Regions from separate parts of the Homo sapiens genome. Here regions 1 and 2 are each reported to be linked to region 3. The links are microRNA targets in miRTarBase. Many come from high-throughput screens and were not tested one by one. Region 3 holds a microRNA gene; each other region holds the end of a gene's coding sequence. Distances are from middle to middle.

The links. The annotated mature microRNA hsa-miR-6757-3p reads AACACUGGCCUUGCUAUCCCCA and lies in region 3 at 2,507-2,528, shown strand. An mRNA with a match to its seed (bases 2 to 7 or 8) in the 3' UTR can be bound and repressed. Matches are read on the target gene's strand: a 7mer-m8 pairs with bases 2 to 8, a 7mer-A1 pairs with bases 2 to 7 and ends in A, and an 8mer does both.
Region 1: the mRNA of PHC1 is a reported target of hsa-miR-6757-3p. Seed matches in the 3' UTR shown: 8mer at 4,922-4,929 and 7mer-m8 at 3,398-3,404.
Region 2: miRTarBase lists IRF2BPL as a target of hsa-miR-6757-3p. Seed matches in the 3' UTR shown: 7mer-m8 at 952-958.

What each region holds. Positions count from the first base shown.
Region 1 is chr12:8,939,158-8,944,856 of GRCh38, reverse strand. PHC1 (polyhomeotic homolog 1) reads right to left here. Exons shown (of 15, transcript NM_004426.3): 15 at 3,390-5,552. The coding sequence ends at 5,398. It overlaps M6PR (mannose-6-phosphate receptor, cation dependent), which reads left to right. Exons shown (of 7, transcript NM_002355.4): 4 at 947-1,056; 5 at 1,322-1,452; 6 at 2,315-2,441; 7 at 2,917-4,496. The coding sequence ends at 3,039. Among named protein-coding and RNA genes, the nearest start is that of M6PR, 7.6 kb to the left of the region's middle.
Region 2 is chr14:77,020,218-77,025,916 of GRCh38, reverse strand. It overlaps IRF2BPL (interferon regulatory factor 2 binding protein like), which reads left to right. Exons shown (of 1, transcript NM_024496.4): 1 at 1-1,374. The coding sequence ends at 515. Among named protein-coding and RNA genes, the nearest start is that of IRF2BPL, 5.6 kb to the left of the region's middle. RefSeq lists a silencer at 1,645-1,870 and an enhancer at 2,077-2,371.
Region 3 is chr12:53,054,484-53,060,558 of GRCh38, forward strand. It overlaps MIR6757 (microRNA 6757), which reads left to right and starts at 2,461; the gene lies at 2,461-2,529. It overlaps TNS2 (tensin 2), which reads left to right. Exons shown (of 29, transcript NM_170754.4): 8 at 703-753; 9 at 1,085-1,207; 10 at 1,298-1,362; 11 at 2,530-2,613; 12 at 3,084-3,196; 13 at 3,290-3,350; 14 at 3,544-3,619; 15 at 3,833-3,962; 16 at 4,089-4,154; 17 at 4,231-4,344; 18 at 4,564-5,775; 19 at 5,922-6,072.

The sequences.
Region 1 (5,699 bases), 44 Mb from region 3:
CCTAGAGTCCTTTTATTCACCCAAATACTTTTAATGAGTTTCACACTAGACTTACAAATACCAACCACCACCACCACTTTTCATCAAATTAATCAAAGTTTACCAGTTAAATTTTAAGAGCTCAAACTTTTTTTTGCAAACTACTCAGTCTGCAAAACTTTACCCACTGATTTTTGTGCTATGGTGGTGATATTTCTTAAAAGTCATATTGCTGGAGAGGACCATGTAAGCACCTATGGTCCAATTCCCTCCCATACAGATAAATAAGTTATACAAGGTAGCTATTTACTCCTGGTAAATAATACAATAAAAAAGTAACAAAAGGGTTTGGGGCTGGGGATCATGTGACCAGGTTCTCCTCCTGTTTCCTAATCCTGTGACTGGAAAGTCGTATCACCTTTTGACCTTGTTTTCTCATATGCAAAACTAGGAGCAGAATCTTTACCTTATTCACCTCACAATTACTGAATCAAATGATATTTTGCAAAAGAACTGAACACAGTAAATACTAAAGAAGAGATATGCATTCCAATCTTAGATATCCACTCTGAATTTATCTGGGGCTAAGTTGAAATCTTAGATGGGCTTACCCCTGCTGCTCAGCAATTGTATGGAACCTCTTTTTTTGCTTTTAGAAGGTATTCAGAAAATGAATCAGTGTTAAGGTATGGATCATAATTGGTTTTGCATTGTCAGTTGCCTACCTTTAATGTTAAAAATTAAGATTATTCTTAAATGAATATCTGATTCTTGTCTTAAGGGAACACAAGTCTTTGTAAGCAAACAAGTTTAGCTTGGCATTTCTGGTATACCAAGTTCGTACTGATGAGGGTTGTTTAGTTATAACCAATTGCAATGAATTACGCAATTCCACTCTGCCATACCACCCAGATCTGCCTCTGCTTTTCCCCCACCCCATAGCTCCATTTTCCTTGTCCCTCCTCAGGTAATTGGATCATGCTGATCTATAAAGGGGGTGATGAATATGACAACCACTGTGGCAAGGAGCAGCGTCGTGCAGTGGTGATGATCTCCTGCAATCGACACACCCTAGCGGTGAGGCACCCTGTGTTGTATAAGCCGAGGGAGGAGACTGAAAGGACTGACCTGAGGTTGGGGAGAATATCCAGAGGGGACACGATACGTTGGGATGGACATTAGAAAACTAGGAGCTCAGTTTCTCTCTGTGTCAGACACGCATCTTCCATGGAAAATAGGCTGCTGAACCAGGAAGGAGCAGATGTTTTTTGGGTTTTTTATTTTGTTGGACAGGAGTCAAAACACTTAACCACCTGAATGTGTTATGCCATCTCATCATCAGGACAATTTTAACCCTGTGTCTGAGGAGCGTGGCAAAGTCCAAGATTGTTTCTACCTCTTTGAGATGGATAGCAGCCTGGCCTGTTCACCAGAGATCTCCCACCTCAGTGTGGGTTCCATCTTACTTGTCACGTGAGTATGCCTTCCTTTATCAGAACAGACCTTCCTTCCTTTTGTTTTTAAGGTCAGTAACTATATGGTGGTACATAAGCACAAATTGTATGTGTACATTATGCTGTAATTGATGGGGATAACTTTTTAAATCCTCTGGCTATAAAATAATTCTGCCAGGACACAGGGCTCACGCCTGTAATCCCAGCACTTTGGGAAGCCAAGGCAGATGGATCACCTAAGGTCAGGAGTTTGAGACCAACCTGACCAACATGATGAAACTCCGTCTCTACTAAAAATACAAAATTAGCCAGCACAGTGGCACATGCCTGTAATCCCAGCTACTTGGGAGGCTGAGGCAGTAGAATCACTTGAACCTGGGAGGTGGAGGTTGCAGTGAGCTGAGGTCGCACCACTGCACTCCAGCCTGGGCAACAAGGGCAAAACTCCGTCTAAAAAAAAAAAAAAAAAAAATTCTGACTGCAAGTTTTTGAAAAATGAGATTTAATGTTTAGTTGCCGGTATAGATTTGCATTTGGAGGTGCTTTTTTCCCCTACTGCAGGACTAGGCAATTTTTATATTATTTCATTAGATTATGAGAACTTCTAGAGAAATGGAATCATATACTTAATGGTGATTATTCTTGGCCATAGAATCACACGCTGTCACATTTTGTCTGGGCCTTTGCTTCTCTTGGACTGACAGCACTCTAACTGGTTTTCTAAGAGTTACCAGCCCCCTTTTTCATTTAGTATCACTACTCATTTTTCCTTTTCAGGGAATGTATCTTAGGAAACAGCTGACAATAAATGCAGAGGTTATCCTATCTGAGTTTTTACTATTTCCCAGTTCTTAAGTATAGATGTCTTTCTCTCTCTACAGGTTTGCATCACTGGTTGCTGTTTATGTTGTTGGGGGGTTCCTATACCAGCGACTGGTAGTGGGAGCCAAAGGAATGGAGCAGTTTCCCCACTTAGCCTTCTGGCAGGATCTTGGCAACCTGGTAGCAGTAAGTAACAGGGCAGCTGGTTGAATTTGTAGCCTGCAAACAAGGTTGGGTGACCAACCATCCTCGTTTGTTCACACTGAGGGGGTTCCTGGGACACAGGACATTGAGTGCTAAAACCACAAAAGTCCCAGCAAACAAGACAGTTGCCCTAGTACAGAGTAGTAAGTGGCACAGCATCCATTTCTGGCCTTGGTAAGACATTGCTGAAAGAGCAACACTGTTGACCAGATGGGCTCTTCTAAATCTGATTTAGCTTTTAAGAGGGCCTGGGTGGGAAGAAGGTGAGGCCTAATAAGAAGAAACTTTTTCTCCTGTTGCCCCAAATTGAATTTAGGCTGATTGTCAGATCTTTTAGGTTTTCTCATTATCCCTATAGAAAACCAATTCTTGCCACATTCCTAGACCATAAGTACACTTTCTCATATCCTAAAGTTAGATGCTGCGAATTATTTCCTTCTTTTTTTTCCCCCTACAGGATGGCTGTGACTTTGTCTGCCGTTCTAAACCTCGAAATGTGCCTGCAGCATATCGTGGTGTGGGGGATGACCAGCTGGGGGAGGAGTCAGAAGAAAGGGATGACCATTTATTACCAATGTAGATTGCACTTTATATGTCCAGCCTCTTCCTCAGTCCCCCAAACCAAAGCTACACAGCCAGATTTCTCAAGCAGTCTCAACTCCAGTCCCTCATCTCACCCTTACTATTGCTCTTGCTTTCCAGTTTGCTTTTGATTTGCATCTTCTCACTAGTAAAACTGCCTTCCCTTTGTTCCTTATTTTCTGTTTTTTCTCTAGAGAGGTACAGTTGTAAGTCAGAGTTAATATAATAGGGCCTGTGAAAACAGAGGCTTTTGCATTGTCTCTTGACATCAGAAGTTACAATAGGCATATGGGCAAAATGGTGTAGCAGGCTCACTGGCCGTTTGTTTTTTAAACACATTTTCACAAGTTTTTGAGACACTGGATTTCTTTAATTAAAAAAAAAATGCCAAGAAACATTATTTATACAGGGTTGATTGCTTTCATGTTGTTATTCTGTACCCTATAGTAGCCTCCATGAGAATCTGGTATTTCTTGCTGCTTGGAACTACTTTGCAGTGATTACTTGGTTGCAGTCCAAGTACTCTCGTTTAGTCTGAGCCTGGAGATGTTCTAGACTTGCTTCTCCCACCTCTGAGATTAGGACAGGAAAAATGTGAAATTTCCCAATTACAGGATTATACGGTACCATCACATCATTTGTGGAAATTGGGGTGACTGTATAGCTGGGATTGGGCTAAGGACTGTGGTCTTATCTGTCCACATACAGCCAAAATGCCTATCCAGAAATCCAGTTCGTTGGAAAGGAAAATTGGTACTCCTGTGCCACAGGGGTTCCAGAAAAGGGAAGTCACTTTACCTTGCGGTGGTGGGATCCTGATGTCTTTCATCCATTTGTAGTAAAAGCTGGTAAAGCTTTTCTTACTCCTGGTTCCCTACCAGTATTTCTAAACATGTCGCACTTTCTCCACAGGCATGTGGTTTTGACCTTTTTTTCAATCTTCTAGAAAGGGAACGGAAGCAGAAGTGGGACATCGAGGGCTCTGCTGTCCTCTGCGCTGGGTGTGGAATGCTGCTGCACCTGTCCCTTCTGCTGGCTCAGGGAAGTGTCTTCTTGCCCACATTTCTGTGGGGAAAGGTTTTTAATCCTCTGATGCTTCCATCTTCCTGTTTAGGCCATGTGCCCAGAAACCTGGACTGATCTTTCTTTAATAGTGAACCCCTGGGCCACTGAAGAGTAACATGGCTCCACTGGACACAAAAGAGGGATGGAATCAACAGGCAGGGGGCCTTTTATAAGCCTTAGGAAAAGAAAATGAAACTATTTCATCTTTGGACTTTTCAATACTATTGGAGTGATTTTTTTCTTTCTAAACAGGGAAAATAATGTTACAAAAGCATCTTTTTTGTTATTTGTTTGCATCCCTCCCCCACACCCTGGTGTTTTAAAATGAAGAAAAAAAACCATCACCTTTTGTACAAAAACTCTTAATGATTAAAAAACAAACAAAACATATTGGCCTTGTCATTTGTGTGAAAGTGGGCAAAGACTGGAATAGAGTAAGACAACTGAAACCAATTTTCATCCTTTTACTGAGGAAAAAAATATTTAATATTTTTGTTATATAAGGAATAGTGCCTAAGGCAGGTACTTATACTCCTGACCTCAGCCCCACACACTCTGGTTTTATAAAGCTATAGGACAGAGCAGAGATGGAACTGAAAAACAGGGTAGAAAATAACATAAATTGGAGGGGAACAGTGGGATGCAGAAAGAATGACAACAGCCACATGTGCCCCAGTCAAATACTTTTAGTCCCTGCAGCAGAAGATGCCAACCAAGTCTCTATACTGGCTGGGGATCCTGCCATGGATGCAGGAGAAAAAATTCAATCACAAGGGAGTAAGTGACAACAAAAAGAAAAAACTCTGAGCCACAGCTACACTGGGAGGGGGGAGGACCAGATTTTGCTACTTCTGTCACACAAGCTAGAAAAACCCTACCTCTCCCATTGGGCAGGCAACCTGACATTCCACCCAGTTCCTTGCCTTACCATACTATGTATTCCTCCTCTTGGAGAATTAAGACCTGGGCTAAATGCTCCACTCCAGGATAAGGCTGAGCAGTCCTAGTTCTCTAGACTGCCTCTTTTATAAAGATTGGATTAAGGTACGTGAAATGGTGAGAACTGTAAAGATTTTAAAAAATAAAGTAGAACCCAGAGAAAATGTCAAAGCTGCCGCCATGTAGCACCAGCAACCAATTCTTGCACTTCTCTTCCCTGTCTCAGTAATCCCCTACAGAAGGTTACATGATTGGAACAACTCTTTCTTCCCTGCAAAGTCTGCTGGTACCAGGTTATAACCTGGACAGTGGAGAGTGTCTGCCTTAGGCTGGTTTGTGCAAGAGGGCCACCTTAGGTCTCCTTGAGGACATTTATCTTGGCGCAGATCTTGAGGGCAGGGCCCAGCTTGATGTTCATGGCACTCATAAGATGTTCTTCTTTAAGTAATAAAAGGGCCTGTCCATCAATCTCCTGTGAGCGAAATTCCTCTGCAATCTCTTGGCAGCCTAGAAGAAATGGTGAGAACATGTAGGTAATGCCAGATGATAGGAGAAGGGAAGCTAAATGAAACTGAGGTCTAGCAATGATTAATTCCAAAGTACCTGTCCTAAATTCAGTAATATGAAGTCAGATGGCAAGCTTTAAAAGCAAAA
Region 2 (5,699 bases), not on the chromosome of region 3:
CTCTCATGTCGGTGGCAGATACTCTGGGCACAGCGCACTCGCCCAAGGATGGCAGTTCCGTGCACTCTACCACTGCGTCGGCGCGGCGAAACAGCAGCAGCCCAGTCTCGCCGGCCTCCGTGCCGGGGCAGCGCCGCTTGGCATCACGTAACGGGGACCTGAATTTACAGGTGGCGCCCCCGCCGCCTAGCGCCCACCCGGGCATGGACCAAGTGCACCCCCAAAACATTCCGGATTCCCCCATGGCCAACAGCGGACCCCTCTGCTGCACCATTTGCCACGAACGTTTGGAGGATACGCATTTCGTTCAGTGCCCTTCCGTCCCCAGCCACAAATTTTGCTTCCCTTGCTCTAGAGAGAGTATCAAGGCCCAGGGGGCCACCGGCGAGGTGTATTGCCCCAGCGGAGAGAAATGCCCCCTAGTCGGGTCGAATGTACCTTGGGCCTTCATGCAGGGCGAAATCGCGACTATCTTAGCTGGGGATGTTAAAGTGAAAAAGGAGAGAGACCCTTGAACCACTGGGCAGCCACCTCCTTTGCCCTAGACCAGCTCCTCTCCAATCCTGAGGGCCCCTCCCCCAACCCAACTCGACCCTCCCTCCCCTCACCCCCAAGGTGTAGAATTGTGAATATAACGAAACTGCAAAAAGTTAGTCTTATGTATAGACATTATTTTCGTCGTATGTTTCTATATTTTGAAACAAAGGTATGTAACTTCTTCATTTGAAGGATAAGCTGGTTTGTGTTAAGCAGTATAGTATTGGTTGGGTCATTTGCATCATATCGTTAGCATTTATTTGGTGGCAGAATGTTTGCCTAGGTACAGAATTAATAGCCCTTAGCAACGACTGCTGCTGGTGTGTATTTTTGTAAATGTTATGCACTCTCTGAAAGGAAAAACACACACAAAAGAAAAAGACTTTTTTTTTTTTTTTTTTTTTTTTGCCAAGGCCAGTGTTGCTGCCTAAAAAAAAAAAAAAAAAAAAAAAAAAAAAAAAAAAATGCTATAAAATGGTGAAAGCTTCCTTCTAAACTGCCCCAAGTGTTGAAGTCTTCACTTTATTTTGTTGTTTTGTTTTGTTTTTCTGTTTTGTTTGCAAAATGGTAAGGGGGTGTCGGGGGGGATGGGGTGTATTTTGTTGCAAGTTTGTGAGGGGAAAATGTTTTGGTTTGTTTCTACTGACCTGAATGTGTTGGATCTACACGTGTTGTTTTGTTTTTGCTTTATTGATGCACGGATGCTTTTGAACAGTAGAGCGAAATGCTAGACATGGAGAATCTGCTCTGTTTGTCCTTTATACATTTCTGTAGTTAACAGAACACTGTAATGTGCCTTGGAGCTTAGTAACTTGTAATAAATTCAATTGATATTAACTGCGCTGAGTCAGCAATTTTGTCTTTCTAGGGCTAAGGCCATGCAACTCCGACGTAGGCGACACCCTCCCTACCTCCAGTATAGAACGAAAATCCTAGTGCTTTTGAAAGCCCTGGGAGCTGGCCTGTGGGAAAGGCCCTGTGCTGCCTTGCTGCCCCTCCCCCTCGGTACCAGGCTATTTAAATTCACCTCTTGGGGAGGCGACAGTTGCTGACTAAGCGATTTCGGTTTACTCTTCAGCATCTCTATTTTCCCCCGGATGCGGGCCCAGCTGCAAATGGCATTGTCAAGAATGCTTTCTGGTGCCTCGCCCTGTGGCGGTGAACATAGGCTGACACCCAGTGCAGCTGGTGACTTGACAAGTGGGCGAAAAAGTCTAGGAGAAAAGCTAGGATGCTTTGCTTCTTAGATATGACAGACATCAGTCTGCATATTTAAAACAAAACTGCCACAGAGCTGGGAGCAAATGCATACACTCAGCCTTGGAGAGTCCGCAGTAGCTTCAGGCTGGTTCCTTGGAAAACCAGTTTTCACCTCATTCATTACAAGTTTTCTTTCTTGTATTTTAAATAATTATTTTTAAAGGCAGAAATAATTCTAAAGACTTAGTTGATTAGAGAGGGTTTCTGAGGATGAGGAAGAGGGGGGGAAACCCCAAACTTAGTTCCTGAAGCAAAGGTTTACTTCCAACATCAAATAAAAATCCATTCCTGCTGGTGAAGCAATGCAATTATTCATCTAATCAGCTTTTGGCGGCGTTTGTGAGGTGCAGAGAGGCGGGGAAGCGGAGAGAAGACTACTGCCCTTTAGAGCAGAGCCCCTGCTCGTGGGCTGAGAGCAGCCTGGAGTCCTCCCAGTGGTAGGGGAAGGCAAACAAACCTGATCTGAACCTTGTACTTTCCTGGGAGGCAAATAGAAGAGCAGAAAACAGGAGGGAGGAAGCAAAACAAAACCCGGCAATCCAGTCAAATTGATTCCTGGCCACATCTCATTCCTGGGCGGGGCGAGCTGGGCCCTGTTGGTCCCCTCCAAGGCTGAAGGACTATTAAGAAACTTGGATCCCCCACTCCACTCCCATCAAAGGAGTGGGAAGACTGGGAGGTGGGGATGGGTACAGGCACGTTTGGGGAGAAACAAATCACTGGTTCGCCCAGAACTCTGGTGTGGAGGCCGGGCTGGTGTCGGAACTTGTTAATAACACCCTTTTAGTTTCTTTTCCTGCTTTGCCACTGCCATCACTGAAGTGGTGGAAACCAGGACTCTGTGTGCACGCGCACTCGCGTGTGTGTGTGTGGGTGTGGATAAGTGGCAATATTGATGGATCTGCTGCAGCCTCTTAATCCTGGTACATGGGAGGTGCCTGCCTCACCTCTAAGAATCTCCCCACATATAAATAGATATTCATGTCAGCTTCCTGCAAATGTGTCCTTGCATTTTCATCTGCTGCCAAGTGTTGTATTGGTGCTTATGAGTCATGAAACCTATTTTCATCCGCAGGGGTAATTAACTTGGGGGTGATAATGCATAGCAGACTGTAGGAAGAGTTAATTCCAAAACCCATCCTCGCCTGGCTACCAATCACACATTGCACTTAAAGGTCTGGGTTGGCTTTTTGTGTAAGTTCATTAATAAAAACCAAGCATGTTTTGCCTGGAAGATCCTCTAAGATGCTCCCAACTCCCGCTCCCAAGGCACATACTCTTAAAATTGGTAAAGCTCAACAGCCTGAGAATACAGTGTCACGGGTATAATTTAACTATCATTGAAGGAAGGAGCGGTGGGTGCAGCCACCCCTCCTCCGGCATTGCACAGTGCATGTGAATTTAGACATGTGGATCACCTGTCTGGGCGTGGACCTTATGAGTTGTGTCTGGTGGCTCCAGCTGGGAGTTGTCCCTGTTACCGGTTTCTGTGCACAGCTGCTCCTGCCGGCCTGCAACTGTCTCTTCATCACTATGGTATTATGCTCAGGAACTTTTAGGATTGTAAGACCCTTGATTACTAGTGCACATAGGTAGGAAAGGAGGGCCTGTCTTTAAGCACTGAGAACAGCATCGTTTCTTTCCTTCTTGTTGCTGGGTGCTATTATGAACAGTAGAAGCAGCAGCTGTAATAATGAGGCATCCAGCCATGGAGGCCAGTTTGGTTTCACTAAGGAAACCTGACTAGAGACGTTGGGGAGAGGAGGGAGGGAGTGGGAGGGAGAGAGCAGGTTGGGGTGGAACCCAGGCTAGAAGTGAATTATGATAGTGCAGTTAATTAAAGTTTATCATAGCCGGGGACCACTTGTTAAATGGAGGCTTTTTTTTTTTTTTAAACCATGTGAACTTTTCCTTTCCTGGGACCCATTCAGCTGCTAGTTTGGTTGCCTTAACCAGCCTTTCTCTGATCCCTCAGCTGGATTCTCCTTTCCCTGAAGCTTTCCACATTGGACGCCTAGGAAGCACTTTTCCTCTCTGGCGTGTAAGGATTCTTGTGGGTTTCTGAGATTCAGCCCAGGCCTCTGGATGAGCCGAGGCTCCATTCATCTCCATTTTACCTCCATTTCTTCTGACCCTCGTTTCCTATCCTTCTCACTCCCTTTCCCCTCAGAGCCAAAGTGGCCAACATTTAAAAATTCATATTTATCTTTGTGCATCATTTGTGCAGCAAATCCAAACGACATGTTTAAGTGGGCAGAGTGGTGGGGCAATGAGGACTCAATTCAACAGCTTTGAGAGAATAGGCCAATGGGAGTAATTTCTTGACCTTGATCTCTGAAGGCAGCACCATAGTCCACCATCGAAGGCGGCTCACCGTATCAAGTCCTCAATGTAAGATTCAAGGTGCGTTTTCACTTGCATCCAGCCCAGACTGGCTGATGTAATAAATACTGAAACTCACTTTTGTTTTCTGTAATACTTCATCAAGTCAGGAAGTTGGAATTGGGGCTGGGCGCTTTGGGAGGCTGAGGCAGGCGGGTCACCTGAGGTCAAGAGTTCGAGACTAGCCTGGCCAATATGGTGAAACCCCGTCTCTACTAAAAATACAAAATACAAAAATTAGCTGGGCGTGGTGACGTGTGCCTGCAGTCCCAGCTACTCGGGAGGCTGAGGCATGAGAATTGCTTGAACCTGGGAGACAGAGGTTGCAATGAGCCAAGACAGCACCACTGCACTGGGAATGACTCTTAAGGTCATCTAGTGAAATGTTCTCTAAACCTTTCTGGGGTCAGAGACACCTTGGAAAAATCTAGCAAAAATTATGGCTCCTCCCCAAGATATACCAGTGCCCACATACACAAGGATTTGCATACATTTTTTTCTTTTTTAATATACATTTTATATATTTGTTTTTGAGAAGGTAATACATTCCTTTGGTTCAAAACTCAAAGAATGAGGCCTGGAGTGGTGGCTTATGCCTTTAATCTCAGCACTTTGGGAGGCTGAGGCAGGAGGATTGCTTTAGGCCAGGAGTTCGAGACTGGTCTGGGCAACATAGTGAGACCCTTCCTCTACAAAAAAAATTTTAAGATTAGCCGGGCAGGCTGGGCGTGGTGGCCCACACCTATAATCCCAGCACTTTGGGAGGCCCAGGCAGGCAGATCATTTGAGGTCAGGAGTTCAAGACCAGTCTGGCCAACAAGGTGAAACTTGTCTCTACTAAAAATAGAAAAAAATCAGCCAGGTGTGGTGGCACACGTCTGTAATCCCAGCTATTCAGGAGGTTGAGGAGGGAGAATCGCTTGAACCTGGGAGGTGGAGGTTGCAGTGAGCCGAGATCACACCATTGCACTCCAGCCTGGGTGACAGAGCTAGACTCCTTCTCAAAACAAACAAACAACAACCAAAAATTAGCTGGGCAAGGTGGTGCATGCCTCTGGTCCCAGATACTTGAGAGGCTGAGGCGGGAGGATCACTTGAGTCTGGGAGGTCGAGGTTGCAGTGAGCAATGATTGTGCCATTGCCCTCCAGCTTAGGCAACAGAGCAAGACCCTGCGTCAAACAAACAAAAAAACAAAGGATGCAAAGGGGAATATAGTACAATGGCCCCTCTGCTACTCAGTTCCCTTCTGGGATGCAACCAATACTACTCAATTTCTCAAGGCATTTATGCACATCTAAAGCCCATTCATGAATTGAGGTTAGAACTTACGTCTGGTCTGGCCGGGCGCCGTGGCTCACGCCTGTAATCCCAGCACTATGGGAAACTCAGGTGGGCGGATCACCTGAGGTTGGGAGTTCGAGACCAGCCTGACCAACATGGAGAAACCCCGTCTCTACTAAAAATACAAAATTAGCCAGGCATGGTGGCGCGTCCCTGTAATCCCAGCTACTGAGGAGGC
Region 3 (6,075 bases):
TAGGGTCCAGATGGGCGAGGCTAATCACTGACGTCACCAGCGGAGGCGAGGCCGCCAGGGGGCGGGACCAGAGTGGTGGGGTGGGGGCGGGGCCCGGAGCGCGGCCTGGAGCGGAGCGGAGAATCCTGGAACGCTGGCGACTTGGCTGTGACTGGCTAGGCCGGGCCTTAGCTACCTTTTTATTTTCTTTATTTATTTACCTTTTTTTTGAGACGGGGTCTCACTTTGTTGCCCAGGCTGGAGTGCAGTGGCACGATCTCACCTCACTGCAACCTCCTCCACCCGGGCTCAAGCGATTCTCCCACCTCAGCCTCAGTAGCTAGGATTACAGGCGTGCGTCACTCACGCCCAGCCAATTTTTTTTTTTTTTTTTTTTTTTTTTTGTATTTTTTGTAGAGACGGGGTTTCGCCATGTTGGCCAGGCTGGTCTCAAGACTCCAGGGCTCAAGCGATCCACACCCGGCAAATTGTTGTAATTTTAGTAGAGATGAGGTTTCACCATGTTGGCCAGGCTGGTCTCGAACTCCTGACCTCAGGTGACCCGCCCGCCTTGGTCTCCCAAAGTGCTGGGGTTATAGGCGTGAGTTACTGCGACCGGCCTGCACCTTATTTTAGAGGAAGATTCTTACTTAGGATCCACCTCCACCTCGTGCCTCATTGCCGGAGATCATTTCTGTCTAAAGCCCTCCCCCTTTATTTCAGCTCTTCAACCTTTCAGAGAAAAGGCATGACCTGACCCGCTTAAACCCCAAGGTATGAAGGAAATGGCCTGCCCAACCATTAAACCAAGCCACCCCAACCCCAGAAGCCCCCAGCTTCCTCGTTATTAATAGTAGCAATTGGCATCTACTTCACTCTTAAGCACTTTCCCACTCTCCCATGATATATTACTGGAGACACCCCAAAACGTGATGCAGCAGGTATCAGCCCATTGTATGGATAAGGAAAGTGCCGAGGCTATCATGGACAACCAGCAGACCCCCAGCCTTGCCCCCGGACCCCTATGCCCTGTCCCCTTTCCACCCTGCCCATCTCTCTCTGTTGGTGGCCCCCGGCCCCAGTTGCACCCCTGCATTCTCCCCAGGTTCAAGACTTCGGCTGGCCTGAGCTGCATGCTCCACCCCTGGACAAGCTGTGCTCCATCTGCAAAGCCATGGAGACATGGCTCAGTGCTGACCCACAGCACGTGGTCGTACTATACTGCAAGGTGGGCCAGGACCTCGGGTTCCCTGGTGCCTGGAGGTTCCAGGTCAGCCTGGAGCTCCCAGACCCTCATCCCTGTCTCTCTGTCTGTCAGGGAAACAAGGGCAAGCTTGGGGTCATCGTTTCTGCCTACATGCACTACAGCAAGATCTCTGCAGGGTGAGGCTCCCAGCGCCTGAGTAGCTGCTTCCCCAGTGGCCCTTTCTCCAGCTGGCCCCTTAGGAACCCATCTCCCCTGGAGCCCACCTCTTCGTTGAGAGTCCTTTGCTGTCAGCTTAGCACTTCCACCTCCCTTTTATCACTAGTACTGCAACATAGTCTGCAGCAGATGGTCTGTAGAGTTTCCTGGGGCAGCCACAAACAGGGTGGTGTAAAACAGTGGAAATGGGCCGGGTGCGTTGGCTCACGCCTGTAATACCAGCACTTTGGGAGGCTGAGGTGGGCAGGTCACCTGAGGTCAGGAGTTTGAAACTAGCCTGGCCAGGTGAAACCCCATCTCTACCAAAAATATAAAAATATAAAAATTAGCCGGGCGTGGTGGTGGGCGCCTGTAATCCCAGCTACTCAGGAGGCTGAGGCAGGAGAATTGCTTGAACCCAGGAGACGGAGGTTGCAGTGAGCCCACACGGTGCCACTGTACTCCAGCCTGGGTGACAGAGTCAGACTCCGTCTCAAAAAAAACAAAAACAAAACAAAACAAAAAACAGTGGAAATGTACTCTCTCACAGTTCTGGAGGCCAGAAGCCCCAAACCAAGCTGTCAGCAGGCCCTTGCTCCATCTGAGACTCGGGATGGAATCCTTCCTTGTCTCTTTCTAGCTTCCAGTGGTGGGCGGCAAGCCTTGGCATTCCTTGGTTTGCAGACACATCACTGTAATCGCTGCCTCTGTCATCACATGGTGTTCTCCCTGTGTGTCTCTGTCTGTGTCTCTTCCTCTCTTCTTATAAGGACACCAATCATATTGGATTCAGGGTCCACCCTCCTTCAGTATGGTCTCATCTTAACTAATTATGTCTGCAACGGCCCTATTTCCAAATAAGGTCACATTCTGAGGTACATGTCTTTTGGGGGGATATAATTCAACCCATAAGATGGTTTTGTTGCCCTGTTTTACAGATGAAAAAACTAAAGTTCAGGGAACAATTGCCTGAGGCCCAACAACTAGTAAAGTGACTGTACATGGTGCTTCTCATTCTCATTACCACTACTCTGGGCTTCTTCTAGACTTAGAGAATCATATTTCTCCTCCATCCCCTGGGGCTTAGGGATGGGAGGCCAGGATGAAGATTAATCCCTAATCCCCAACACTGGCCTTGCTATCCCCAGGGCGGACCAGGCACTGGCCACTCTTACCATGCGGAAATTCTGCGAGGACAAGGTGGCCACAGAACTGCAGCCCTCCCAGCGTCGGTGAGCAGCCTGGGTGGGGATGGGCCAGAGGAGCAGCTCCCTTCATGGCTACCAAGGCCAAGACTCTCTTATTCATGCAGCACACTTTCACTGAGTGTGCCAAGCGCCGTGCCAGGTGCTGAGAATTCAAAGTGGACAAAGCCCCTGCTCTCATGGAGCTTTCATGCTAGTAGGGTGGAAGGCAGTAGACCTGGGAATAAATAGACGAGGAGATCAGTCATAAAGAGAACCTGAAGGACAGTCAGGGCCTGCCACTATAAAGTGAAGCAGAGCTCTGGGGAAAGAGCTTTGAGGCAGAGGGGAGCAGGAGGGATTGAGGTTAGATGCAAGGAAGAACTTTCTGGTGACCCGGAAGATGGGAAGGAAGTGTTGAGCAGAAGAGCGAGCCTTCTAAGGGTGGATGGTTGAAATGATACAAGGTGACCTCCAGAGGAAAAGGCTTATGTTCTCCTTGACACGCCCTCCACCAGATATATCAGCTACTTCAGTGGGCTGCTATCTGGCTCCATCAGAATGAACAGCAGCCCTCTCTTCCTGCACTATGTGCTCATCCCCATGCTGCCAGCCTTTGAACCTGGCACAGGTGAGTCTGCCTGAGATGTGCTCCCTAGGGAGAACCACCTTCAGGCCCTCTCCACTCAGCACCCCTCCTGTGCCTTCTCCTCTGCCCCTCCAGGCTTCCAGCCCTTCCTTAAAATCTACCAGTCCATGCAGCTTGTCTACACATCTGGAGTCTAGTGAGTGCTCTATTCCCAGGCCCCTGACACTTCATGACCAGGGCCCCTCTTGCTCCTGCATTCCTGCTTCTCCAGCCTCCCTAGACACCTGGGCAGGGCTCAGACTCTGGTCTCCTGGCTCCCCCTGACTGCATAGCTGCCTCTGCACGCAGGAGCTTCTGGTTCATCTCTGCCTTCTCCTCTCTCCCCACAGTCACATTGCAGGCCCTGGTCCCCAGCAGCTTTGCATCAGCCTGGAGCCAGCCCTCCTCCTCAAAGGCGATGTCATGGTGAGGGGGGTCCTGTCAACAAGAAGAATCCTGGAGATGGGGCAGGGGTTGGTGGTGTAACGGCACAGTCACCAATTTGAGACAGATTGGAGAGCGAGTAGGGAGATCACCTTGAGATCGAGGCAGGGCAGAAGCTGTGACCAGGCAGTCCCCAGGGTGGAAGCGCAGAAGAGGACATGAGGCCTGATCCGCAGCCTCCTGCCTTTCTCCCAGGTAACATGTTATCACAAGGGTGGCCGGGGCACAGACCGGACCCTCGTGTTCCGAGTCCAGTTCCACACCTGCACCATCCACGGACCACAGCTCACTTTCCCCAAGGACCAGCTTGACGAGGCCTGGACTGGTGAGTCTGAGACAAGTGGCCTGGGGCTGGAGTCCAGGTGGCAGGCAGGTGGCAGGCAGGTGGCAGGCAGGCAGGAGAGTGTGGTATGGGCCAGGGGCCTGGTTCTTCACTGTCCACTCCCCATAGATGAGAGGTTCCCCTTCCAAGCCTCCGTGGAGTTTGTCTTCTCCTCCAGCCCCGAGAAGATCAAAGGTAAGAGCAGGGACATGGGCTGGGGACTGAGGGCCGCCTCTCCCCTGCTCCCCAATACCCGAGTGGCCTTCCACAGGCAGCACTCCACGGAACGACCCCTCGGTCTCTGTCGACTACAACACCACTGAGCCAGCCGTGCGCTGGGACTCCTATGAGAACTTCAACCAGCACCACGAGGACAGTGTGGATGGTGCGCAGGCAGCCTGCAGGGTGGGAGGTACAGGGTTGTGGCGGGACCCTGGGGGGTGGTGCCAGGGAGAAGCACACTCCCTCCTCCCCAGGCAGAGCCCACTCCCGAGAGACACCCCCGGCCCGACAGCTGTCTCCAGTGCCATCCCCTCTCATGAATTTTCTCTCTCCCTCCCTGTTCCCCGCTTGCCCTCCCTCCCTGATCCTCTTCCCCACTCAGGCTCCTTGACCCACACCCGGGGTCCCCTGGATGGCAGTCCTTATGCCCAGGTGCAGCGGCCTCCCCGGCAGACCCCCCCGGCACCCTCTCCAGAGCCTCCACCACCCCCCATGCTCTCTGTCAGCAGCGACTCAGGCCATTCCTCCACGCTGACCACAGAGCCGGCTGCTGAGTCCCCTGGCCGGCCGCCCCCTACAGCTGCTGAACGGCAGGAGCTGGATCGCCTCCTAGGAGGCTGCGGAGTGGCCAGTGGGGGCCGGGGAGCTGGGCGCGAGACGGCCATCCTAGATGACGAAGAGCAGCCCACTGTGGGCGGAGGCCCCCACCTCGGAGTGTATCCAGGCCATAGGCCTGGCCTCAGCCGCCACTGCTCCTGCCGCCAGGGCTACCGGGAGCCCTGCGGGGTTCCCAATGGGGGCTACTACCGGCCAGAGGGAACCCTGGAGAGGAGGCGACTGGCCTACGGGGGCTATGAGGGATCCCCCCAGGGCTACGCCGAGGCCTCGATGGAGAAGAGGCGCCTCTGCCGATCGCTGTCAGAGGGGCTATACCCCTACCCACCTGAGATGGGGAAACCAGCCACTGGGGACTTTGGCTACCGCGCCCCAGGCTACCGGGAGGTGGTCATCCTGGAGGACCCTGGGCTGCCTGCCCTATACCCATGCCCAGCCTGCGAGGAGAAGCTGGCGCTGCCTACAGCAGCCTTGTATGGACTGCGGCTGGAGAGGGAGGCTGGAGAAGGGTGGGCAAGTGAGGCTGGCAAGCCTCTCCTGCACCCAGTGCGGCCTGGGCACCCGCTGCCTCTGCTCTTGCCTGCCTGTGGGCATCACCATGCCCCGATGCCTGACTACAGCTGCCTGAAGCCACCCAAGGCAGGCGAGGAAGGGCACGAGGGCTGCTCCTACACCATGTGCCCCGAAGGCAGGTATGGGCATCCAGGGTACCCTGCCCTGGTGACATACAGCTATGGAGGAGCAGTTCCCAGTTACTGCCCAGCATATGGCCGTGTGCCTCATAGCTGTGGCTCTCCAGGAGAGGGCAGAGGGTATCCCAGCCCTGGTGCCCACTCCCCACGGGCTGGCTCCATTTCCCCGGGCAGCCCGCCCTATCCACAATCTAGGAAGCTGAGCTACGAGATCCCTACGGAGGAGGGAGGGGACAGGTACCCATTGCCTGGGCACCTGGCCTCAGCAGGACCTTTGGCATCTGCAGGTGAGGGGCACCAGAGTGCGGAGTGCCCAGGGCAGAGGAGGTTCTGGAAGATGGTGGGGAAGTCAAGGGGGAACAGGGTGAGAAACAGCTAAGCCAGACAGAAGAGCCCCATCCTGCTCACAGCCCACCTCTCCCCTTCACTGCAGAGTCGCTGGAGCCGGTGTCCTGGAGGGAGGGCCCCAGTGGGCACAGCACACTGCCTCGGTCTCCCCGAGATGCCCCATGCAGTGCTTCGTCAGAGTTGTCTGGTCCCTCCACGCCCCTGCACACCAGCAGTCCAGTCCAGGGCAAGGAAAGGTA